Linked DNA regions of Homo sapiens: regions 1, 2, 3 and 5 are each linked to region 4. Evidence: fine-mapped expression QTL. A gene starts in region 4. Each other region holds a variant in brackets. All regions are shown on one strand. Distances are from middle to middle.

What was found.
Region 1: its variant is fine-mapped to the expression of CERS3 in whole blood (TOPMed, PIP above 0.99).
Region 2: its variant is fine-mapped to the expression of CERS3 in cerebellum (GTEx, PIP 0.97).
Region 3: its variant is fine-mapped to the expression of CERS3 in activated naive CD4 T cells (Schmiedel 2018, PIP 0.95).
Region 5: its variant is fine-mapped to the expression of CERS3 in activated CD8 T cells (Schmiedel 2018, PIP 0.95). The same link has a PIP of 0.9 or more in Th1 cells.

What each region holds. Positions count from the first base shown.
Region 1 is chr15:100,585,291-100,590,396 of GRCh38, reverse strand. All of the region lies in intron 1 of LINS1 (lines homolog 1), which reads left to right. Among named protein-coding and RNA genes, the nearest start is that of LINS1, 14 kb to the left of the region's middle. RefSeq lists a silencer at 1,447-1,647. The variant A/G (reference allele first, on the strand shown) is at 2,749.
Region 2 is chr15:100,559,836-100,564,926 of GRCh38, reverse strand. It overlaps the pseudogene RNU6-181P. Among named protein-coding and RNA genes, the nearest start is that of CERS3, 33 kb to the right of the region's middle. The variant G/C (reference allele first, on the strand shown) is at 2,558.
Region 3 is chr15:100,598,847-100,603,952 of GRCh38, reverse strand. It overlaps LINS1 (lines homolog 1), which reads left to right and starts at 1,769. Exons shown (of 7, transcript NM_001040616.3): 1 at 1,769-1,832. It overlaps ASB7 (ankyrin repeat and SOCS box containing 7), which reads right to left and starts at 1,364. Exons shown (of 6, transcript NM_198243.3): 1 at 907-1,364; 2 at 640-738. RefSeq lists silencers at 582-631, 1,082-1,341 and an enhancer at 1,512-1,851. The variant T/C (reference allele first, on the strand shown) is at 2,670.
Region 4 is chr15:100,525,971-100,531,076 of GRCh38, reverse strand. CERS3 (ceramide synthase 3) reads left to right here and starts at 2,127. Exons shown (of 12, transcript NM_001378789.1): 1 at 2,127-2,264.
Region 5 is chr15:100,550,964-100,556,069 of GRCh38, reverse strand. It overlaps the pseudogene PRKXP1 and the pseudogene RNU6-322P. Among named protein-coding and RNA genes, the nearest start is that of CERS3, 25 kb to the right of the region's middle. The variant C/TGC (reference allele first, on the strand shown) is at 2,913.

The DNA.
Region 1 (5,106 bases), 59 kb before region 4:
GATGAGGCAATGTGTGTACCATTAAAATTTCTCACCTGCATTGGACCTTCATCTTTTATCTGTCAAAGTATAAGGTTATTCATATACGAGGCTGGCTGCAAAATCCTTCACAAATAAAAGTGTACCCCATAAGTGCATACAACAGACCCCCTTTTCATTTCTATTGTTCTTGGACGCATAAACAAAAAATATTCAAAGATAAGACTCTCATAATAGTAGAAGTCTTGATCTGTGATCTTGGGAAAAGCTGTTCACATCAAGGATGCCATGTTCTTCTGGGGAGCGACTTCCTTGGTTAGCTTTACCTTAAGGGTTCCTATGGGTGTACAGTTCCAAGAGTGTGGAGGGACCCTCCTCAGTTGTGAGATTATGAACCCAAAGTTCAGGGTTCCAAAGTTTTGCTGCAATGTGGATGGCAAGGACAATCTTTCTCCAATGTTCTCAGAAGATCTAATCTTTAGGCTCTAGATTTGTGAAGGGGTTGATTGTCCTCAGCAAACCATAAAAAGCTTTCTGTACCTAGTGAAAATACACTGTGGCGTAATGACTTAGTTTTATAACATGAGCCCTCTTGCATGGGAGAGCTTTTATATAACCAGAAAACATGCATTGAAAATAATAATTGAATAAAATCCCTTAAATGGCCCATCAGGTGACCAAATGTACCTGAAGCTTTGATTATTTTCCCAGGAATATGGGCCCAAACATTGGCTATAAAGTATTTCAGTAATTTATAAGCCACCACACCAATATATTCAATTTGGATCATTTTATCTTTTCTATGATGAGTCATGGAATGCAGAACTTTCAATAATAAAAGCTTTAAGGACTCAGAAAGGACAAGGTGACCAACCTGGTCCTCCATGAGTCCATGCTTAATTAATATTAGACTTATATCCTCTTGAATACCAGTTGTTTCTCCACATTAGGTGCATAGCACTGGTAACTGATGGGTTATCATAGGTAAATTGACTTAGATCGTGGAGTTCATTCAAAATATGTATCTAAAACAATTTCAGTATCAGCTGATTTAACATGAAAATCTGACAAAAAGTATTTTCTTGGTACTTAATTCTTGTTCTACTTGGGTTAGCAGCTTTATACAAGGAAATTTGGTTATTTCTGTGGTTTAACCCTTTAAATTAGGCAAAAATGTACATTCCCATGCTTTCTTATAGTCTTTTACCAACAACACCTTTCACTTTTCTTACACACCTTGCATGTAAAACTGTTTCTTCAGTAGTCTCAGTTACATGTTACAATGTTAACTCTTAGCAACTTTTACTTTTGGTGAAAACCTTGATAAGTTTGGGGTTTTAATTAAGTACTAGATGTGGAGAAGCCTAGAACCCAGAAAGAAATGCAGATAAAGTCTGACTTTTTCTAGCATCTAACTCCATGTGTCCCGGGCCCTACCTAGCTGTAAAACAGGCAAATTGTACAGTTAAGAGTCACAGTGGCATTTACAAAGCATTTAGGAGGCCTAATCACCTTTAAATTGTACAACATTTCTTGCATAAATTCTTTTTCATAAATTATTTCATGACTTACACAGACCATCTATCACATGCTTGGACTTTCTGACTTGTCCTAAACACCCCTCTTTTAAACAAGCAGTTATTTTACTTTAGGACAAGAATTTATCATACAAGATCCTTTCTTATATAAAACCTTGTTTGCATAGCTAGAGGGCATGGCTAATTTCACATGTCCCCAAGACTTATCTAGAATCTAATGCTCCAGAATAAATTAAGCAATTTTTAAAAGTCAAAGAAGCAGTTTGTGACCTTAAAGCATTTAGTCAACATAATATCTGACCTGCATAATTTAGACCAAATGTTTACATTTGTGAAGATATTTTTATTTTACCAATAATCTTTAAAAACTGTCTTTATTTCTCAGATTACTTAAGTCACATGAACTAAATGAAAGGCATTACACTTTTTACTTTTCTGACAAAATATTTGATTTAAGCTCTTATTATTAACCAGTTAATTAAAACTCTTTTATATTATACACACAACACATATAAATACACAGAAGATAAAGGATTCATTCCCTGAGCCAGGAATTGAACCCTAAACCCAGGCCACCATTGTGAAAAGAGAAAGTACAGCCACATAGTTACAAGGTCAAGCTCCCAAGGACATGACTGACCAATTGGCTGGGCCATCTTGAATAGTGGGCTTTTGGGGCCCTACACACGCTTTTTATCCTAGGGTACCCCTCTTTATGACAGAAAAATACAGGAAGACACACAGAGCACACCAGATTCACTACAGCTTAAGACCAGCCTCAGAATTCCTTTTGTATTAATTAAAACTTTATAGAGGAGATAAACAGTGACATTTACCTTTCATTTAACCATTTGGCACAAATTGAGAGAGGCCAGTGTCTGACTACTAAGAAATTCTTGCCCTTTTGCCGGCATGCCAGATTTCTGGGCTCTTTCTCCCTGACCAGCCCTGGTGACCCTAGTCAACTGTAATGCAAACAAACACATTCCCATGAATTAAGAATATTCACAAATAGCTTCAAATTTTGGAGAAATTAGGCAGAGTGAGAATTACTACTCAAATTCTATTTACAAAAGTATAATCAAGACACTTAAAGTATCAGGAAGCCTAAACTCCAAAGAAGTTAGTTTAAGATTAAAAAGCTGGTGTGCTCCATTAATTCCTGCAGGCCCAACAAAGGTAGCCTAGGAATTCTGGATAAATGGGACAAATGATGACTTTCTAAAAACAC[A/G]TAGGAAACAGAATATCCACAGAACCAAATAAAAGCCTTCCACTTAGGAACTTAAAAAAATCATGGTTTTATATATATGCATACACGAGCAAAGCCCAGAGGAGAATAAACAGCAAATGAATGAAAACTGGAAGCACAAACAAACAGAAAACCAACCCTAAATTTTCCCACTGAGTCTATCCTGGAGGCTACAGTGTTACCCAGGGCCCCAAAAAACCCACATAATGAATATTTTATTACTATTACACAATTCAGTTTCCTTAAGTTCACCAATATCATTATACATCCTGTGCAATCAAGAAATTCACTCTAGGCACATGACCTATATAAGTACTTCAGTGCCGGCACTATCCATGCAAAACAGTAGACATAGTGTGAAGCAATGCAAGCATGTATGTGAAATTTGGCTCCACACTAAATCCGGCTTCAGGCTTAACTATATTAAAGAATTGCCAAACTGCTAATGTTTTTTTTTTTTTTTTTTTTTTTTTAAGACAGAGTCTCCCTCTATTGCCAGGCTGGAGTACAGTGGTGTGATCTTGGCTCACTGCAACCTCTGCCTCCTGGGCTCAAGCGATTCTGCTGCCTCAGCCTCCCAAGTGGCTGGGAGTACAGGCGCAGGCCACCATGCCCAGCTAATTTTTGTATTTTTAGTAGAGACAGGGTTTTACCATTTTGGCCAGGATGGTCTCGATCTCCTGACCTCGTGATCTGCCCGCCTTGGCTCCCAAGTTGCTGGGATTACAGGCATGAGCCACCGCACCCGGCCACATTTCTTTACAATACTTACTTTATTTTAATCAAGACTAAGAGCTTTAACTGAAAACATTAATTAGCCAAATGTCTCCAATTCTCTGTCAGGTTTTAAATAATATTTTATTATATAAATTTTTTCCACATGTTTATCCGCTACTTACTGGTTTCTTACTATGGTATTTCATAAATAACCTTTTCAAATCTGTATCTGAACTAACTTTTAGATAACTTCTGAATTAGACAAAATTATTATTTTTCTCACTAGTAATATAAACTTTTTGGCACATTTTGTTTACAGAATTATGTGTTAACTAGAATTCTTAGTAACCTAAAACTTGTGTGAAACCCCAAAAAGCAAGAAATCCTGAACCATAAGATGTGGGCATTTATAAATAAGAACAGTTCCACAATTTAGAAACATACTTCCCCATATCACAATCCTTTCTTTATTGGAAATGACCCAGATATTAAATGAGCATCAAAAATAGCTCAAAGCATTTAATTTACACAAAAAGTTTACTTAAAACACTTATCCCATTCACTGTGCTCTGTTCTTTCAGTTTTAACAAGGGAGGCATGAGACATCAATCAAGATATGTAAAATGAACATTGGTTCAGTCCAGAAAGGTGGGACAACTCTTAAGCTGGGAGGGGGCTTCCAGGTCACAGGTAGGTGAGAGACAAACAGTTGCATTCTCTTGAGTTTCTGATTAGCCTTTCTAAAGGAGGCAGTCAGATATGCATTTATCTTAATGAGCAGAAGGATGACTTTGAATAAAATGGGACACAGATTTGCCCTAAGCAGTTCCCAGCTTGAATTTTCCCTTGAGCTTAGTGATTTTGGGGGCCCAAGATATTTTCCTTTCACAGATTTCTCTGATTTGTCAAAAAAACAAGGCATGCAAACCAAGATCATTTTGTTTTGGCTGGGTTTATAGTTTAATAATCTTCTATGCCAAACACTGACATCCCAAAATATCTAGCAAAGACAAACATAAAACCAGACAAAAAATGTATGCTGACGGTTCTGAAGGCACTTCTGTTTTTATTTTACCAATAAGTTTAAAGCCAGCTTATTTAGTAAAGTTATACTTAAGTCATGTGAACTTAAAAATTGCTTAGACTTAGTTAATGTATGAGCACTCTTATAAGTCAGTTCAGTAAACACAACATATAACAATAAGTGTACATACAAATAAACACGTCTAGACATGTACATGTACACATACACGAACGAAGATCCAATAGCTTGGAACCCTAGCCATGAGATAGCAATACAAGCTCGCCAGTTTTACTTTGTTTGCCGCAATAGATAATCCAGTGAAGGCTGTGAACCAAAATTTCGAGTAAAACATTTTCCACGGCAGTTTGATTTTTAAAGGCCAAACCTCCCCAGACTCCAAAGGACACTGGGTCCAAACAGTTCCAAACGAGAGCATCACATGTTAACCAGGCCCCCTGCTCAGAACAGCAGCACAAAAGCCTGGATGCATGCAACACCATCCCACTTTCCCATTCAACAGCAAACTCCAGATTCCAAACAATATTGGGGCCAAACAGCATTGCAACTGCGAGAGAAGGTTCTAAGAAGAGTTTAGGACT
Region 2 (5,091 bases), 34 kb before region 4:
ACTTTAGTGGCAATATAGTGGCTAGAGTTTATTGCCACAATAGAGTGGAAGAGTTTATTGCAGAAATCCCACTGAAGGCAAGGGCAATGGGAATGGGATCCAGGCCTGGCTGAATGCTCACATCAGCTTTTCTGCCCTCAGACACCCACTAACAACAAGAAAGAGGCCAAATCACAAGCAACAAGACACATGCGGACAAAATGGAAAAGGAGAAAACAATTTTGGAAGCTCAAAGGTAGGTAGGTTGAAAACTCGTAACCGCCCAGTGGGTTCATCTTTCCCACTCCCTAAACGAAGCCGATTTATCAAGACAGGAATTTCAATAAAGAAAGAGTAATTCACACAGAGCCGGCTGTAGGGGAGACTGGAGTTTTATTATAACTCAAATCGGTCTTTCCGAGCATTCAGGGATCAGAGTTTTTAAGGATAATTTGGTGGGAAGGGGATGTGAGTCAAGAGTGCTGATTGGTTGGGAAAGAGAAGAGATCAGGGAATTAAAGCTGTCTTCTTGTGCTGAGTCAGTTCCTGGGTGGGGGCCACAAGAACCAAGATCAGATGAGCCAGTTTATGGATCTGGGTGGTGCCAGCTGATCCATCAAGTGCAGGGTCTACAAAATAGTTCCTGACTTAGGAGCAGTTTAGGGAGGGTCAGAATCTTGCAGCCTCCAGCTGCATGACTCCTAAACCATAATTTCTAATCTTGTGACTAATTTGTTAATCCTACAAAGGCAGTCTCGTCCCCAGGCAAGAAGGGGATTTGCCTCTTATCTTTGTTTTAAACTATAAATTCCTCTCAAAATTAGTTCAGCCTATGCCCAGGGATGAACAAGGACAGCTTGGAGGTAAGAAGCAAGATGGAGTTGGTTAAGTCCGATCTCTTCCACTGTCCCAGTTACAATTTTGCAGTGGCGGGTTCAAACTAACTTAGTCGACCCAGGAACATTACATTCCTATCTGGAATGGGGAAAACTGAAAAACCTGACTTATGAGCTGGATTCTTCTGAAGGCTCAGGAGCTTGTAGTCTTGAGTACCATGCTGTACCATGGGGTGGTGGGTGGAAAAGCAATTCAGGAAACAATTACTTCTAGATCCTCTGCCCCATTCCATGTAGTTAGCCATTGCTCCCTCCACCACCTAGCAGATTAGAGGTTAATTCCGGGAGAGTGTGAAACAACAGGTCTTTGGACTGGGGAACACCAGACATAGCTGGAGATAGGAATAACATACTGAAAACAGGATTAATTAAACATTTACATACTAAATATAACCACCATCCTCCCTGGCCTTCTCCCCAACCCTATTGCCAAAACACTTCTAACTCTAAGTAGGAGGCTAGAAGAGACTTTTCTGGGGAATTTAACAAACCCAAGAAAAAAGATCTAAAGACACTGATACTGGGGTTCCCCAAATGAATTACCCAGCCAAATCACCCTACTATGAAGCCCATAGTGGCAAATATCACCATGTACATAGAGCTAACTGGCATTTAAGTGGCTCACTCTTACATATAATGTGAGTGAATAGCCAAGGATCATCAGGAATTAGGGGAAAGCCTCTAACCCAAAAGGCAGAGATCAAAACAAACACGAAACAGATTAAACAAAGAGGAAGTTAATTTATCAATACCCTCAAAGAAATTATAAAGGATACTACATAAAAAATATTCAGCGAGGGGCTGGGCATGGTGGCTTACACCTGTAATTCCAGCACTTTGGGAGGCCAAGGCAAGAGAATCACTTGAGCCCAGGAGTTTAAGACCAGCCTGGGCGACATCATGAGACTCTGTCTCTCCAAAAAAAAAACCTAAATAGTTGAGTATAGTAGTCCCAGCTACTTGAGAGGCTTGGCAGAAGGATGGTTTGAACCCAGGAGTTTGAGGTTACAGTGAACTACAATCGTATAATCGCACCACTGCACTCCAGCCTGGGTGACAGAGCAGAGCAAGACCCTGTCTCAAAAAAGAAAAAAATATTCAGTGGGGAAAAAAATACCTCTTATAAATTAATAATGTGATAGCAAAAATGAAAAAGTAGAAATGTAGTAAAAATAAGTTGAGGAAATCTAGATTTTACAGCAATAGGACAAAGAAATTAGAAAATAGGAGAGAGAGAGATGATATAATGTGAGAACTGGTCACCAAGGTCCAATAATTGAATAATAGAAGTATCAGAAAGAGAAAAAAGGACTGGAAAAGAGAAAGTATAAAAGAAATTCAAGGAAAGTTTTTAGAACTGAAAGACTTAGTCTTTAAATAATGTGTGCAAGTATAACTGGAAAAAAGAATTTAAAAAGGAGGAACAGGATCAACCTGAAATAAAGAGCCATCGTTTCACTGGCATGCTGAGATGCTGCTCTGTTTACTGAAATAAGAAAGTAGGAAGCCTTAGGAGGAAGAAAAGTTCAGTTCTCACCTGAGTGACTTCTGACACTGTTATCAGCACAGCGTGGCATCCAGCAGAGAGTTAGAAATGCTCTGTTGGAAATTAGAAGGACAGAGCCAAATATGAGTCATTTGTGTACAAGTATTATGAAAATCGTAGAAGAAAGTGTGATTGC[G/C]CTGAGAGTGGAGAGAGAAAAGGTGAGGGTGGGTCGGGGGAGTACTGGATAGAATAAGGAAAGTGAGGGAAATTTGAGGCAGGAGAACAGAAAATTCTATGAGGAAACTAAGAAAGGTTTTATAGAGCTTTGAGAAGGAAAATTTATGTGGGGTTTAGTATCTCTGAGAGCAACAGTGGGATGAGATCCGAGAAACCACCAGATGGTTTGACCCTTAGGAAGTAGCTGATGATGTTTAAGAGAGAAATTTTAGGTGGACTCAAGTGTGCACAGGAGGGGAAGAGGTAGAAACCAAGGATGGTGGTTTTCAATTTATTTGTATTCTCTGCACACAAATAATACTGGCATTTTGGGTTGCACCTTTGAAATGACAGGCTGAAAACAATACCATTCAAGTCAGAAATAGTTTTAACACAATCACCAAAGGCAATGTTCCAGAAATCCAAAATATCTCCCTGGGCACCAGCTGGACTTGCTGCTGTACCTCCTACCTCTTCCTTAACACAACCCACTAGGGCTGCACTTGGCAGACATGGACTGCCCAGATGTTTGGACACTTGACCTAAATATTAAACTTTAATTGGTCTTGATTGTCACTTATGACAGTATAAAAATTGTCTTGCTTTATCAAAATGCACATTCAAAAATTATGGTTGACAAAATGCCTTTTCTAACAGTAGGATCATAGATCAGACTAGCAAACCATTTCTGAGTTTTTCTGGTTATTTTAAAGAGGGTAGAACTGAACTCACATCAAAGCCTTTACAGTAAACACCATGTATCCCCTCTTAATTGCAAAGCTGGCCTATATATTTTTTTAAGATAAAGGAAAAGCAAACAGTGATCCCTTTCTAAGTTTGCAGTTCACAATGAACCTTACCAAGTAGTTGGAATGAACTGTAGTCCAGTTACTTACTGCATTGGGTACAATACATGCTTGTGTACACCCTGGATTGCTTGTGTTTTTCCTTTTCAGGATTTTTGCTTTGTTTTCAAAGTACACTTCTCTGATATTTATTTTAAATTTACTTCACATACTGTTTTTTTGCAATGGAATCTCACTATGTTGCCCAGACTAGTCTCAAACTCCTGGGCTCAAAGGATCCTCCTGCCTCAGCCTCCCAAGTAGCTGAGATTACAGGCACACACCACTGTCCCAGCAGTTCTCTGATATTTAGAAGCATTGAGATATGGAATGTGATCTGCCTGTGATTTTCTTTCCAGTGAGAATGGCTCAGGTGTTTGCTGTTTGGTAGAGCCTACCCAATCATTGAAGGCAGTAGAGTTGAAGCATGGTTTTACCTGAAAAATGTGCAATGGCACTATCCTGGCTCACCACAACCTCCACCTCCTGGGTTCAAGCAATTCTCCTGCCTCTGCCTACCAAGCAGCTGGTATTACAGGCATGCACCACCACACCCAGCTAATTTTGTATTTTTAGTAGAGACAGGGTTTCTTAGTGTTGGTCAGGCTGGTCTCTAACTCCTGACCTCAGGTGATCTGCCCACCTAGGCCTCCCAAAGTGCTGGGATTACAGGCATGAGCCACTGTGCCTGGCCATCTGAAAAGCACTTTCTATGCTTATATTGGCAGCACATATACTAAAATTGGAATGATACAGAGAAGATTAGCATGGCCCCTGCTCAAGGATGACATGTAAATTTATGAAGCATTTCATATTTTGTAACTTTAAAAAAAAAAAAAGGCACTTTCTAGGGGTGGCAATCAGAATGTCTGTGTGTTTTTTAAGTGCCTCAAGCCTCCTGTCAGACTCATTTCTCCCTTTGAGGCCTGTGAAGTAAGCACCCCAGAAGCACACTTATAATTGCTGATGACATCTTTTTAAGCTATTCAATAAATTATGAGGAAGTGCAGGTTTCCCCACAGCTAAACTTCTTTTATTTGCTAAGGACCATATATTGTCCATCTCCAAATCAACAGATATTTGTTTTTCTGCAAAACACAAAAGACTACTTGTGTAAAACAGAATTGGATTTTTAACTGTCAGTTTTCCTGAAAATTATCTTTTAATTTTTTTTCTGATTGTGCTATTTTTCTCCACAATAAAGAGAAAGGGTTCCCCTGACTCACTGGACTATTGACAAGTACATCATTTTTGTATCGCATAGCATTTTTTTTTTTTTTGAGATGGCATCTCATTCTGTTGCCCAGACTGGAGTGCAGTGGTGCAATCTTGGCTCACTGCAATCTCCACCTCCTGGGTTCAAGTAATTCTCCTGCCTCAGCCTCCCAAGTAGCTAGGATTACAAGCGTGCACCACCATGTCCGGGTATTTTTTTTTTTTGTATTTTTAGTAGAAATGGGGTTTCACTGTGTTGGCCAGGCTGGTCTCAAACCCCTGACCTCAATTGATCCACCCCCCTTGGCCTCCCAAAGTGCTGGCATTACAGGCGTGAGCCACCACGCGTGGCTCACATAGCATTCTTTGCTTGAATATAGCATATGCCCTCTTGATTGTGTGTCATTTTTAATATGTACAATAAACAATTTGACGATTACATGGAAGGGAAAAT
Region 3 (5,106 bases), 73 kb before region 4:
CAAAGAGTTAATTATGCCTAAGTGCTTCAGGGTAATAATGTTGTCTTCATACCATTCACACTCTTAAGGTACACAGGTTGGCTTTCTAGTAGGAAATAAAATCAAACTATTTTCTGAAACTCATAAATCTCAGGCCAATAATTTACCTTTCTCTACCAAATCGTTGTCAGTTAGATAACTCAAAAGATTTTTCTGATGCAGGTAGAAGAAAGGTGATAGGAAAGAGTAAGGGGGAAAACAGTAAATTGTGGTTTAATTAAAAAGGAAAGTCATTCAGAATTAACAAGCAATTAACAAGGAATTGAGGAATTCCTATGAGAGTAAGGAAGGGAGGGTAGCTACAAAAAGGTCTCAAAGCCTCAGAGCAGAGTAAATGGCACAGTGTACCAAAAGATAATGAAAAACACAGAAACACACTGTACAGAAAGAAAGTGGGAAAATACTGTCCTGGGTAGAGAAGTTATAAAATGTTAAGTATCAGGCACGGGTAATGTTTTTGTTTTTCCTGGGAAACTGGGGGTGGGGGTGGGGGGGGTAGGAAAGGTTGCATTCCCAGGCAACCACCCTGAAAATAAACCACTGCTTAATGAGGTAGGGGCCAGGAATAAACAACGGGGGAGGGGAGGGCTGGCTCATTACCTTTACAGACGATGCTGGTCAGAGGCACTGTGCCTTCTGCTTCTCTGATAGGTGGGCAGACCTCTTCCTGCTTTCGCGTCTTCTTCAGCCAGCTCAAACCTAGAAAAACAGAAACCAGTGAGTGGTGTAGTGTCTCAGAGGTGGGGAGGGGGGAGCTCAGGAAAGGGGCTGGAGAGTGGCAAGGGCAGGCAAGAAAAAGCAGAGATTTTCCTCCCTCCTACCCTCCCAGCCAGCACTCTTCCCCTCGGGGGAAGTAAAGGACTTTACCTGTCTCCTCAGCTGCTGCTTCTCTTCCTCCTTTCAGCCTCCTCTACACTCACCAACTTCTCCATTGAAGAAATACCCCAGGCAGGGCCGGACCCTGGTGTTCCTGATCCTCCTCGGTGCCTCACGGCCCCAGCCCGGCGAACATCCGAACAGCCGAGAAGGCAGGAGGTGGCGATCCCGGCCGCCGGGCAGCCTTGGGGCAGAGGTGCAGGGAGGCAGGGAGGAAGTCCTGGCTCGGGTGGGGGGGCAGTCCCGGTCCAGGGCTCGGAGCAGGGGGCTGCCGCGCTCCGGGCCGGAGGCTTCCAGCTACGGAGGGACCCAGGAGGTCTCGGGACGGCGAGGTCCCAGGTCATACGGGGCCCGAAGTGCCAGCCGTGGGGTCTCCGGACAGGGGGCTTTCGGGATGCACTTTGCACTGGGCCACCCCCGCCCCCTCCCTTCAGCACTTTGGGGTCACTGGGATGGGACCAAGCCTTCAACAACCAATCAGCGCCCGCAGTGGAGCCTGAGCCTGGAGCCGTAAACCAGGTCCGGGATGGGTGGGGGTGGAGGGAGTAGGGACGACTTGGTTGGTTGGTTGCTTCCTTCTCTCCTCCTTACCCCCGGCAGCCCCCACCCTCTGCCTGCCGTAAAGTTGCCTTTGCATTCGCGACAGTTAAGGGAGGCGTGCCGAACGGGGCAGAGATTCGTCTCCGATTGGTCTCACTCACTTCCCCTTACAGCTTCCCCGTGGTGGCTTCCGAGGCTCCGCCCCTGGCGGAGGGACTCAAAGCCGTTGCTAAGAGACACTATTCGCCGAAGGCGGTCTCTGCGCATGCGGGAGGAGGTGCCAGCTTGTACTTTCTGTGAACTACGGTGGCCCAGAGCGGGCATTTGTGTTCCCTCAAATGGCGGTGTGAAGAGAGTTCGCCTGAGCCAGATCCCAGGCAGGTAACCGGGACCGGCCGCCGTGCTGGCAGCAGGGGAGGCACGAGTGCGGCCAAATGAGAGCCTGGTTCAGGGCTTAAGGTTGGGAGGGCGGCAGGCTCCAGGAAGCGAGTAGAGGGGTGCCTTGTTTCTCCGCCCCTGTTCAGCGCTTGTCAGACGCAAGTGCCCGGTCTTGGCGCGGCTGTCGGTCCTTGAGACCCCGTTAGCTTCCAGGCTGGCAATGCCTCGCCTGAAGTGGGAGAACGGACTCTCTTTGGGATAGCGATGACGATCCAAGGACCTTCCTGAAAGGATAGCAACGTTGGCGGGTTCCTGTGAATGAATGGAGAGGGGTCGTGGGGAAAACGCGAGATAGACTGATCAAGACACGTTTGTTAAGCACTTTATTCATTAGCAAGTGTTTACTGGCCACTGTTCTAGTCCCTGGGGAGACAACAGTGAACAAGATAGTGATTTCGGGGAAACAAACACAAAATTATCAGATAGGGATGGGTTATATGAGGAAAATCAAGCAGAATGGTGGAATCGATTTTGACCAGGACGTGATGGGCTGTATTAGATAGGTAGTGCTATGGTGTGAATATCTGTCCCCTTCAAAACTCATGTTGAAATTTAATCCCCAATGTGGCAGTACTGAGAGGTAGAGTCTTTAAGAGGTGGTTGGACCGTGAGGGTTCTGTCTTCACGAGTGGATTGATCTATTCATGGATTAATGGGTTATCACGGAGGTAGAACTGGTGGCTTTTTAAGGAGAGACTTGACAACTCGTGAGCCTGCTCAGCCCCCTGGCCACGTGATACTTTGCGGTGCTGTCTCGTGGTCCGTCAGTCTTAGAC[T/C]TCCCAGCCTCCAAAACTAGACAATAAATTACTTTTCTTTATAAATTACCGAGTTTTAGGAATTATTTTATAAGCAACAGGAAACGGACTAAGACAGATAGGAAAGGTCTCTGAGGAAGTGACATTTGAGCAGGGATCTGAATGACAAAGAGCCAGCCATGCCAAGATCTAGGGAGAGAATTTTGCCAGCAGAGAGAATTAGAAATGCAAAGCCTCTGATGCTAGAATATGCTTTGCTGTTTACAGGAACTGCCAGAAAGAAGGCTAGGGTAGCTGAAGCAGAGTGGTAGGAAAATGACTGGTAATGAGACTGGGGAGTGGGGCATAGAGATGAGAAGACGCCGAGAGTCAGATCTTGAAGGGCCTTGGTAAGCCTTGTTTAGGAGTTTGGACTGTATCCTAAGGAAAGTGGATTGGTTTTTCAGAAGGAAGTGGGTGTAGGGTGGGCCTGGATACAACCACTTTGGAAGGGATCGGTTGCAGTTGTCCAGAGTAGAAGTGCAGTAGTGGCAGTGAAGATAGATTCAGCTTTTTAATTTTTGTCCCATTATACTTCCCAGCAATCATATTTCATAATTTCAACTTTCTAAATTTCCATTTCTTCTTGAAATTAGTAGCTGAATTATAATTAGAAACAACTTATTCAGGACTATTAAATGCTATCAATTTTTAGTAGCTTTCGGTCTTTCGATTCTACCATGATTTCTCCCTGTTTTTTTTTTTTTTTTTTTTGCTTAACAGCAGGACTCCAATGTAAACAAATAAAATAAAAGCGGTATTTTATTAGTATTGTTAAATGAAATGTATAGGAAGCCATTGTTTTAGATTAAACCCCTGCACTAGGCCCAACAGACCAGGCCAAATCAGAATGGAGTTGCTGGTGCTAGGTGTCACATAATCAAACAACTTAGAAATGGGCCAGTTGTCAAAAAATCCAGAAGATACACAGCAAGGAGTCAAGGAGGCCTGATTTACCTGAGCCAGCATGATAAAGAAGTCTCTCCTCCATTTGGTCTCTGTGAGGAAAGTTTAACTTTGAAATGACCAATCTGTCTTTTATTCTCTTTTTGCTTCTTCAACCGTTTTCAGCCCACCTCTGCTCAGCTAATCAGAACACCGTTTCTAAATTTTTAGTTGAGATGCTGCCAGATTCATAAATTGCTAATAAAAGCCATTTACATCTTTAAATTTGTTCAAATTTTGTTTGTTTTTGTTTTTGAGATGGAGTCTCCCTCTGTCGCCCAGGCTGGAGTACAGTGGTGCGAGCTTGGCTCACTGCAACCTCCGCCTCCCAGGTTCAAGCAGTTCTCCTGTCCCAGCCTCCTGAGTACCTGGGACTACAGACACACTCCACCACACCCAGCTAATTTTTGTATTTTTAGTGGAGATGGGGTTTTACCACGTTGGCCAGGCTGGTCTCGAACCTCTGACCTCAGGTGATCCACCCGCCTCGGCCTCCCAGAGTGCTGGGATTACAGGTGTGAGCCACTGCACCCAGCCTCAAATTTTGCTTTTTAACAGTTCAAATATAATGTACAAGTTCAGTTTTATAACATTTACTAATTATAGAGTCAAGAAGTTTTGAACTCCCAAAAAGAAGGAAAAAGAGGGAGAGAGAAATGAATAAATATGTAAATTGTTGTGGAGAACATATTCATTCTTATAGCAGACTCGGCACCCATGCAATTCATATGGTGTATTTGCTAAATGATAGTTAAGTAGAGAGATGGGGGCCTAAGAACTTGTTGGTGAAGAGCCTAGAAACAGAGTTGTCTCCTAATTCCTAGTTCTTTGTATTTCTGGCCATTTGTTTTTCATTAAAAATCCTGCCTTTGAGTTAAACAACCATTTTCAAATGATTGAAGTACATGATTATATCATAGCCAAGTAACATCATATTGTCAAAGTTTCACAGAATGTGCTACTAGGTAATTTTAAATTGCTTTATTGAATTGGTGCTATCAGATTTGCTAATTTTTATAACTTTTCAATGATGTAAAAGCAGTTTAGATTGCGGAATATTTATAACAAGTTAATATTGATTAGGTTTTAACAGATACACTTCATTTCCCATTAACTTAGTTAATAATATAAAACTCACAAAAATGGGAACATCTTACAACATATAAGTGAAATAATTTGGGATAAGTATTCATGAAGCTTGATTCATGAAACCCTGACTCAATCAGAATTGAGTTTATTTCTTGAGTAGAAAGAGACTTTGTCATTGGAAAAATGCCCCAGCACCACTGCAGCAATTCTGATTTAGCTGGTCTCTAGGGAGTCCAAGGCTCATGGGTTTTTCCTAATGTTCCAGTGATGTCAGTGTCAAGGTCAGATTCCAAGGTCAAGGACCACTGCCCAGGAGGCTGTGTCCTGGCCCATAAAGCACTTGGTGGTGGAGAGAATGAGCAGGTTATGCTCTAGTTGGCAGCAG
Region 4 (5,106 bases):
AGTCTCACTCTGTCACCCAGGCTGGAGTGCAGTGGAGTGATCTTGGCTCATTGTAACCTCTGTCTCCTGGGTTCAAGGAATTCTCCTGCCGCAGCCTCCCGAGTAGCTGGGATTACAGGCGCCCACCACCATGCCCAGCTCATTTTTTGTATTTTTAATAGAGATAGGGTTTCACCATGTTGGCCAGGCTGGTCTCAAACTCCTGACCTCAAGGGATCCTCCCACCTCGGCCTCCCAAAGTGCTGGGATTACAGGTGTGAGCCACTGTTCCCAGCCTGGTTCCCCAATATTCTTTTGGCTTGTTTAATTCTGAGTAAGAGAGTCCAAAATAGGGTTCAGGACATTCTTTTCCCGAGATATCCCCGGAGTGAAAATGAGTGTTGGATGATCACTATTTTGGGTACTAATTGTTTGACCAGTATTGAACAGCTGAGCTCCAGGGGTAGAAAGAGATCTAAGGCTTGTCCAGTGAGGATTCCCAAAGTAGTGGGGAAGCAGATACAAAAATCAGTTAAGTTGTGATAGAGTAGTAGGTGTTGCAATAAAGGTATACCCACAGAACAGAGAGGGCCGAGGCTAGGGAAGCTTGAGCAGGATTCAGACTTTCATTAGGCACAGAGGCGAGAGAGCAGCTCATGGCAAGGGCCCAGAAGCTGCCCACTGTTGTGTCTGGAATCTAGTGGGAAAGGGCAAAAGGAAGTCCTGGAGCAGCAGGTTGCGAGCAGGCCATTGTGCCAAGGAGTCTGGTCTTGATCCTATAGGTAGAAGGTGGCTGGTAGAGTTTAATCAGCAGAAGAAAAAGAAATGAGAATGGGAATGTGAGTTAGGTGACAATTGGATGAAGATGGAAGCCTCATGTCAGGAAACCAATTCTGCAGTGGTCTCCTGGCAGAAGGTGAGGCAGACCTGAACTGAGCCTACCTCGGTTAGTGGCCAAGTCTGCTTTAAATTCATCCCTTCTGCCAGATGGTTTTAAAAATGCATGAGCCCATTACTGAAAAACAGAACGTCTTCGAAGAGAAAGGCAGACCGGGAAGCCCTGAGTGAGAAGTACCCAGTGAAAGGAAGGGCGTTTATCAATCCTCTCTCTTTGAACTAAATTCATTAGTGAAATCTGAGAAACTTTGGAGCTTTAATGAATTTGAAACTGGTGTTTCCCTTTATCTGCATCTAGTCCATTTTTAATTTGCGGTCATCTATTAGCTGATGAAAAAAGAAAAATGTCTTTCAGCAGTTGAAGACAGCTAATGAGAATCAGGCTCTCAGTGTGGGCGGTACTGCTGATGTTTGGTTTGTGAGAGATACAGGAATCAACTTGTTGAAGCTCTCTACTTGTCAGAGCACCTTTAAATAATCCAAGCCCAGAGTTGTTTCATCTTCAGGCAAGAGAAAGTGAAAATGGCTTCAAAGGTACAATATCTCAAATAAACACTATAAAATGCATCCACACTTGCCTTTGAAATTGTAGTGGTTCAAGCACACAGAGACAAGCAACAATGTTTATTTCCTGATACTAATGAGCTTGTCTGTCTTTGTCTATGATGATTGTTCTTAGAGACAAACAAATAAAAATGCGAATTATATCTGACTGTTCTAAGAAGAAAAGATTGCCAGACTATTGTATTTTTTGGCAGTTATATGCTTCAAAAAACTGATCGTTTTCTCAATTCCTAGGAAGCGGGCAGAGAAATCACATTCCTGTGGACCAATGCTCCTTAGTGGATGAGTTTTGTGGCATGGTGGTGATTTAGTTAGTAAGAAGCCCTGCCTGTTTTCTGGAGAGTACTATACTTGTCGAACCAGCTCCTAGGACAGTACAGGGTTGTGACTGGTGTTTTGGGGTTCTCTCTGCGCATAAGCCCTTTCCTTTTAATACAAACAGCAAGATCATCCTGTTCAGCAGTTGACAGATGACTGTGTGCACCAAAAGGCAACAACGATGAGGCAACTGATGCATTTGTAACTCAATGTCTCACTGAATTCCAGCTTTCTTTTCTCAAGGTGGTGAAACAGGAAGCAACATCCCATCAGGAAGAACCTGAGGGTGCCATCCAGTAGCTTCGCCTCACGTCACTGACTGCCCTCAGTCAGAAATCTTGACTCGCAACTTTGGAGGGTGGGTCTCTGAAGGAATTTCAGGTCTTACACAGAGATGAGTTGTGCTGCTCTCTGAGGAGAACGAAGCTGGTTGGAACGTTGGAAGCTGCTCTCTGACTACACTTCACAAGCAAGGGGCACCTTTTGTGGACTGACATTTCAGAAAGGTAGGCGCCATCCCATGGATGTGGTTAGTATTTGAGGACTTTCAAAACCAAGGTGGCCGTGATTCCGCGTGTGAGCTTGTGTGTGTATGTGTGCCTGGGTGCGTAACAGAGAGGGAGAGGAGATGGAGATTGGGGGAGAGGCGGACAAATGAAGAAATGTTCATTTTTGGTCTGATGTTTGGGAGAAATACAGAAAAGACAGACTTGGGGCCCTTTGCTTTGTAGAGTTTTGCTTGGAAGTGTTTAGTAGTAGAGGGTAAATTTCGAGTCCAAACTTCCACTCCTGACCTGCATTGCTCTCGGGCGAGTTTAAACTGATTCATTGAGGGTTAGGAAGAAAGGTCTGGGCAGTGAAATCACACACGGCTGAATGCTCAGCATAGCTTGGTTTATCAGGAAAGCCCTGAATCCAGGTGGAATGAAAGGGGTCAGCACAGATCTTTGCCAGGTGGCAAAGGCCATTTCAGACCATCCCAGAGTGCCTTAAGCTGAGAACAAGGTGGGACTTGCTCACCCCACAGTGGCAGGCCTTCCTAAGCTGCTTCTGTCTTGAGAGATGTAGTGCTCAATGTCATGCCAGGAGAAATTAGCTGTTCGGTTCTAAGGCTGCCAGTCTCATGCAGAAAAGTGAAACAAAATCAAACTACTTTTTCTGATCCAAGCAAATGTTTAGCAAGAATGTTCTGTTAAGCATTTTTATTTTTTTGAAACCTTTACACAAAACAAGGGAAATAAAGCTTTAGGGCTGACCAGATAATGAATTTTAATTTATTCATTAACCCACAATGTTCAAGTGCCTTCTCTACCTTAAGTGAGTGTTTGACTTTAAACTTCACATTTTCATTGCCTTCCCCCCTACAAGCCTTTTGTTTTTCTTAAAAGGGGTTTCCATTTATAATTTCTTCAGTAGAATTTCTGGATAAAAAGTTCTTTAAAGAGAAAATATGTATATGTTCAAAAAGGTAATAATTATGTGGCCCTCTCATTCACAATATTTCTGCCTTTTTCTAAAATATCAATCAAATTGATTTACATAAGTTTGAAGATCATTCTGGGCTAATAATAATCTACATTTACTAAGTCCTTGCTGTGTGTACGTGCATTTTCCCCTTTAGGGCTCATGATACGCCACTTTCAGACGAGGAATTGAGGCTTAGTGAGATTTACAGTGGTACAGTAGGGATGTGAGAAAGCCACAGCTTTATTGCATTTCTGCACACTAAGATATATGATTTCAGCTCATTCTATATTCCCATTCTATTCCATTAACCCCCTACAGGGTCCTTGTGTGGAGGGATTCCTGAAGCTATGATAATATTCAAATACTCGAATTTGGTGTCTTATAACAAAAGGCCAAAATCAATCAATCAATCTATCACCTGCTTCTGCTGTTGGAGGAAGGCTTGGTGTGGTGGACAGAACATTGACTAGAAAGACAGATCAAAATTCAAATTCCTGCATCCTGCTTACTAACTATGACCCTGGCAAGTCACTGAAATTCCTTTTTTATTTTTTTGAGATGGAGTCTTGCTCTGTCACTGAGGCTGCAGTGCAGTGGCATGATCTTGGCTCTCTGAAACCTCTGCCTCCTGGGTTCAAGCGATTCTCGTGCCTCAGCCTCCCAAGTAGCTGGGAGTATAGGCATGTGACACCACACCTAGCTAATTTTTTTGTAGTTTTAGTAGAGATGGGGGTTTCGCCATGTTGGTCAGTCTAGTCTCGATCTCCTGGCCTCAAGTGATCTGCCCACCTCAGCCTCCCAATGTACTAGGATTCCAGGCATAACCCACCACACCTGGCCTCAGTGCAATTCTTCAAATCTCAGTTTCCTTATTTATAAAATAATTATTATAACATCCATCAAACGAGGTTGTTTATTATAAGACATAAAAAGGCAGGGTATGTCAAATGCCTTCCATAGGACCTGACAGAGGGTAGGCCCTTGGTAAACAGTATTCATTTCCCCATTTTGCAGTGATTTCTTCATGCTCTTGACATGTTGGATCCTGTTCTAGGATTGGGGGTATCACCAGTGAACAAAGCAGACAAGTCCCTGCCCTCAGGGAGTTGCCTTTCCACTGGTACTTGTTCCTTATATCCTAGTGTACTTTCTTGGGAAATCACTTTGTGATTATCTTTCTTTGTGGAGCTGATCCAGCTTTCAAACAGCCTCTTAAAGTAATGAATGTCCTATGCCAAAAGTCCCCCAAAGCATAGTAAAATCAAGCAAAAAGCAAGAACATCAGATACTTCTTTTTCAAAAGTCAGTTTGTTGTGGTAGGCCAGGAAAGTTGTTTTTACACACACACACACACACACACACACACACACACAGTTTATGTAGGTTTTCCCTGGCCTCCACACCACAGCAGAAGCACTGCCAGGAGCTGGCAGAGTGCTCATGGGAGGAGGGTGCTGGGCTGGCTCCAAGGGAGCTCCCTCCGCTCACAGAGCACGGAGTGTATCGTGGCAACTGTTCATTTATCTTGGGCCCCAAGCCATCCACACAAGAAGCTTGGACTTTCCAAGCCCTCCCCAACACGAATTTATGGGATGCGATGCAAAGATTGACCTGCAGGTGTACACCTTTATAAGGATGGATTTGGGACAAAAACGATTGACTTATGTTTTGGCAAAAAGCCTGCAGTCAAGTTCATCAAGTAGGCCAGCTGGCATCAAGAATGGTGTTTTGGCAATCTATCTCTATGTTTGAATCCAGAGAAACTGCAGATCATAGCAGAGAGATAGCAGAGGGGAACACAGAGAAGCTCTCTCTGGAATCAGATGCAGGTAGATTCTTCTTTCTCCTGGAAACACCTCAACACACAATACAACGATCTAA
Region 5 (5,106 bases), 25 kb before region 4:
CTCATCTGCGTCTGGAACGAAGTCATCCGCCCGTCCCTCATCTGCGTCCTGAAGGAATCATCCACCCCTCCCTCATCTGCGTCTGGAAGGAAGTCATCCGCCCGTCCCTCATCTGCGTCCTGAAGGAATCATCCACCCGTTCCTCATCGGCGTCCCGAAGGAAGTCATCCGCCCGTCCCTCATCTGCGTCTGGAAGGAAGTCATCCGCCCGTCCCTCATCGGCATCCTGAAGGAATCATCCACCCGTTCCTCATCGGCGTCCCGAAGGAAGTCATCCGCCCGTCCCTCATCTGCGTCTGGAAGGAAGTCATCCGCCCGTCCCTCATCTGCGTCCGGAAGGAAGTCATCCGCCCGTCCCTCATCTGCGTCCTGAAGGAAGTCATCCGCCCGTCCCTCATCTGCGTCTGGAAGGAATCATCCACCCGTCCCTCATCTGCGTCTGGAAGGAAGTCATCCACCCGTCCCTCATCTGCGTCCTGAAGGAATCATCCACCCGTCCCTCATCTGCGTCTGGAAGGAAGTCATCCGCCCGTCCCTCATCTGCGTCTGGAAGGAAGTCATCCGCCCGTCCCTCATCTGCGTCCGGAAGGAGGTCATCCGCCCGTCCCTCATCTGCGTCCTGAAGGAATCATCCACCCGTTCCTCATCGGCGTCCCGAAGGAAGTCATCCGCCCGTCCCTCATCTGCGTCTGGAAGGAAGTCATCCGCCCGTCCCTCATCTGCGTCCTGAAGGAATCATCCGCCCGTCCCTCATCTGCGTCCGGAAGGAGGTCATCCGCCCGTTCCTCATCTGCGTCTGGAAGGAATCATCCACCCGTCCCTCATCTGCGTCCGGAAGGAAGTCATCTGCCCGTCCCTCATCTGCGTCTGGAAGGAATCATCCACCCGTCCCTCATCTGCGTCCTGAAGGAATCATCCACCCGTCCCTCATCTGCGTCCGGAAGGAGGTCATCCGCCCGTTCCTCATCTGCGTCCGGAAGGAATCATCCACCCGTCCCTCATCTGCGTCCTGAAGGAATCATCCACCCATCCCTCATCTGCGTCTGGAAGGAAGTCATCCGCCCGTCCCTCATCTGCGTCCTGAAGGAAGTCATCCGCCCGTTCCTCATCTGCGTCTGGAAGGAAGTCATCCGCCCGTCCCTCATCTGCGTCCTGAAGGAATCATCCACCCGTTCCTCATCTGCGTCCTGAAGGAAGTCATCCACCCGTCCCTCATCTGCGTCTGGAAGGAATCATCCACCCGTCCCTCATCTGCGTCCTGAAGGAATCATCCACCCGTCCCTCATCTGCGTCTGGAAGGAAGTCATCCGCCCGTCCCTCATCTGCGTCCTGAAGGAATCATCCACCCGTCCCTCATCTGCGTCCTGAAGGAATCATCCACCCGTTCCTCATCGGCGTCCCGAAGGAAGTCATCCGCCCGTCCCTCATCTGCGTCTGGAAGGAATCATCCGCCCGTTCCTCATCTGCGTCCGGAAGGAATCATCCGCCCGTCCCTCATCTGCGTCCCGAAGGAAGTCATCCGCCCGTCCCTCATCTGCGTCCCGAAGGAAGTCATCCGCCCGTCCCTCATCTGCGTCCGGAAGGAAGTCATCCGCCCGTCCCTCATCTGCGTCCGGAAGGAAGTCATCCACCCGTCCCTCATCTGCGTCCGGAAGGAAGTCATCCACCCGTCCCTCATCTGCGTCCGGAAGGAAGTCATCCGCCCGTCCCTCATCTGCGTCCGGAAGGAATCATCCACCCGTCCCTCATCTGCGTCCTGAAGGAATCATCCACCCGTTTCTCATCAGGCTGTGCTGGACGGGGCATGACTAGCGCTTCCTCTGCAGGCTCATGGAGTATGTTCCGGGCTGTGAGCTCTTCAGCTACCTGCGCAACCGGGGGCTCTTCTACTCTGCAGAGATCATCTGTGCCATCCTGCACTCTAAGGAGATCATCTACAGGGACTTGAAGCCGGAGAACATCCTGCTGGATAGGGACGGACACATCAAGCTCACGGACTTTGGGTTCGCCAAGAAGCTGGTAGACAGGACTTGGACCCTCTGCGGAATACCCGAGTACCTGGCCCCCGAAGTCATTCAGAGCGAGGGTCACGGAAGGGCTGTGGACTGGTGGGCCCTCAGCATCCTGATATTCGAGATGCTCTCGGGATTTCCTCCATTTGTGTGTGTGTGTGTGTGTGTGTGTGTGTGTGTGTGTGTGTGTGACAACATGTTTGGCATTTATCAGAAAATTCTTGCAGACAAGATAGATTTCCCCAGACATTTGGATTTCCATGTGAAAGATCTCATTAAGAAACTGCTCGTGGTTGACAGAACAAGGTGGTTAGGAAATATGAAGAACGGGGCGAATGATGTGAAACGCCATCGGTGGTTCCGCTCTGTGGACTGGGAAGCTGTTCCTCAGAGAAAACTGAAGCCTCCCATCGTGCCCAAGATAGCCCGCGAAGGCGACACCTCCAACTTCGGAACTTACCCCGAGAATGACTGGGACACAGCCGCGACCGTGCCGCAGAAGGGTTTAGAAATCTTCAAGAATTTCTGAGGACAGGAGCTCACATCTGGAAGAAGCAGGAAGGCTGGAATCTGCCTGCAACAAAGAGCTGCTCCTGAGCAGACCAGTAGCAATGTCTTCTTCACGTGATAAGGACATTTCCACTTTTCTGTCTTTGTGCCTGTATGTATAGAAACAGATCAGAGCACAGTTGAAATTAATGTAACTGGCATTATTTAAGCAACTGGAATTCCACACTGTAGGAAGGTTTTGAAAATTGTTTGCTTGTAGATTTTATCTTATCCTTTAGTGTTGTGTTCCTACTGTGATGTCTTGGTTTTTCTCATAGACTTAAGTTTATAAGTTTGAACTGGACTTGTTCAATTATAACCACAAATTGTGTGTGTGTGTGTGTGTGTGTG[C/TGC]ATGCGCGCGCCTGTGTGTATATATAGAAGTCATTATGGCAGATCCACAGAAATTGTGCAATGATGTAAATGTTCATACTTCACAGAGCCTATAATTTTTATTTTTCAATTTGTTTTTTCAAAAATCTCTTCTCTTGGGGACAACATCTGAAGGGTCTGTTGCATGGATTTAAAAAAATCATCTCACATGCATTTTTTAGTTTGGGTGAAGAAAACATCATGGGGAGGTCCATCTTCAGTATCTTTAGTGCTTCCTACCTGGTAACTTGAGACTTTAAAAGAAGAAACAAAGAGAAGAAGATATGGGAGTGAATTTATTCCAAGAATCTACAATGACATTGAAGTTGTTGGAGGAATATACTGTATTTAAAAAACCTGTGTCACATTCAAAAATTTCATCTAAGCTGGGCGCAGTGGCTTGTTCCTGTAGTCCCAGCACTTCAGGAGGCTGAGGTGGGTGGATTGCTTGAGCCCAGGAGTTGGAGACCAGTCTGGGAAACATGGTGAGATGTCATCTCTCTACAAAATACAAAAAAATTAGCCGGGCATGGTGGCGCTTGCCTATAGTCTCAGCTACTCGGGAGGCTGAAATGAGAGGATCACTTGAGCCCGGGGAGGTCCAGGCCGCAGTGATCCGAGATCACACCACTGCACTCCAGCCTGGGTGACAGAGTGAGACCCTGTCTAAATTAAAAAAAAAAAAAAGGCAATGGCTTTGTGCTTTTGAAGGTGGAATGAAAGGTGGAATGAAGACACATCCACCTTAAGGCTTTAAAAGACCATGAAGCTGGGTGCAGTGGCTCACTCCTGTAATCCTAGGATTTGGGGAAGCCAAGGCAGGAGGATTGCTTGAGCCTAGGAGTTTGAGACCAGCCTGGGCAGCATAGCAAGACCCCATCTCTATAAAAGGAAAAAAATGTTAAAACACAGTGAAACTGCAGAAACAGAACATAGCCACCCTTTTTCATTAATGACCTTTTCTTCACGTGGTGGTCAACTCAGCAGGTGAGAATAATTAGTAGGTTCAGTAGAATAAAGTCTTTACAATTAATAACTTAGTGGAAAATGATGTTCAGATGATGAAATGTGGAAATGTTTTAGACAGCTGTATTTTCAGCCTGTGTGTCTCAGTCACCATCCTGTTGGGATTAACAGTTGAGGGCCATCATTTTCTAAACATTTCACATGCAGTTTCCCATAATTTTTACCGTGAATGTGAAAAGGTGAAACTGGTGCTGACTTCAGCGGCAGGTATACTAAAATTAGAATGACACAGAGGAGATTAGCATGGCCCCCTGTGCAAGGAAGATCCAGATTCATGCCGCATTCCATATTTTTTTTTAAAAAAGGTTACACTGTGCACCGAGATGTGCAGCTAGAAGGAAGAGCATGAAGTCTCGTGTTTGCTGACTATAAAAATAAATCATAGTAATAATATTGTTGAAAATTCTGCTTTAAAAATTATTAATAAAACCATAAATGAAACACTATTCTTGAGCACACTTTAAAAAGTACATAGACCCATAAGTCCATGTACTAAAAAATGCCTATTTTTAGGTTGCCTGTTTTGTAATCCAGGATTTCATACTGAGATGAAAATTAGCATCAGGAAAAGCCTGAAATGCCTTGCCTTAATTGTGAACAGATACTGGGGAACCTGCCCCGATATTCACGTAGGTTCTTTTCTGTTTTCCTTAAGCATCGGCCAGCTTGAGAAATAAAGGGACAGAGTACAAAAGAGAGAAATTTTAAAGCTGAGCGTCCGGGGGAGACATCACATGTCGGTAGGTTCCGTGATGCCCCACAAGCCACAAAAACCAGCAAGTTTTTATTAGGGATTTTCAAAAGGGGAGGGAGTGTGCGAATAGGTGTGGGTCACAGACATCAAGTACTTCAGAAGGTAATAGAATATCACAAGGCAAGTGGAGGCAGGGTGAGATCACAGGACCACAGGACCGAGGCGAAATTAAAATTGCTAATGAAGTTTCGGGCACCATTGTCATTGATAACATCTTATCAGGAGACAGGGTTTTTGAGATCAACCGGTCTGACCAAAATTTATTAGGCGGGAATTTCCTCTTCCTAATAAGCCTGGGAGCGCTATGGGAGACTGAGGTCTATTTCACCCCTGCAGTCTTGACCATAAGAGATGACCACGCCCAGGGGGGCCAGTTCAGAGACCCACCCCCAGGCG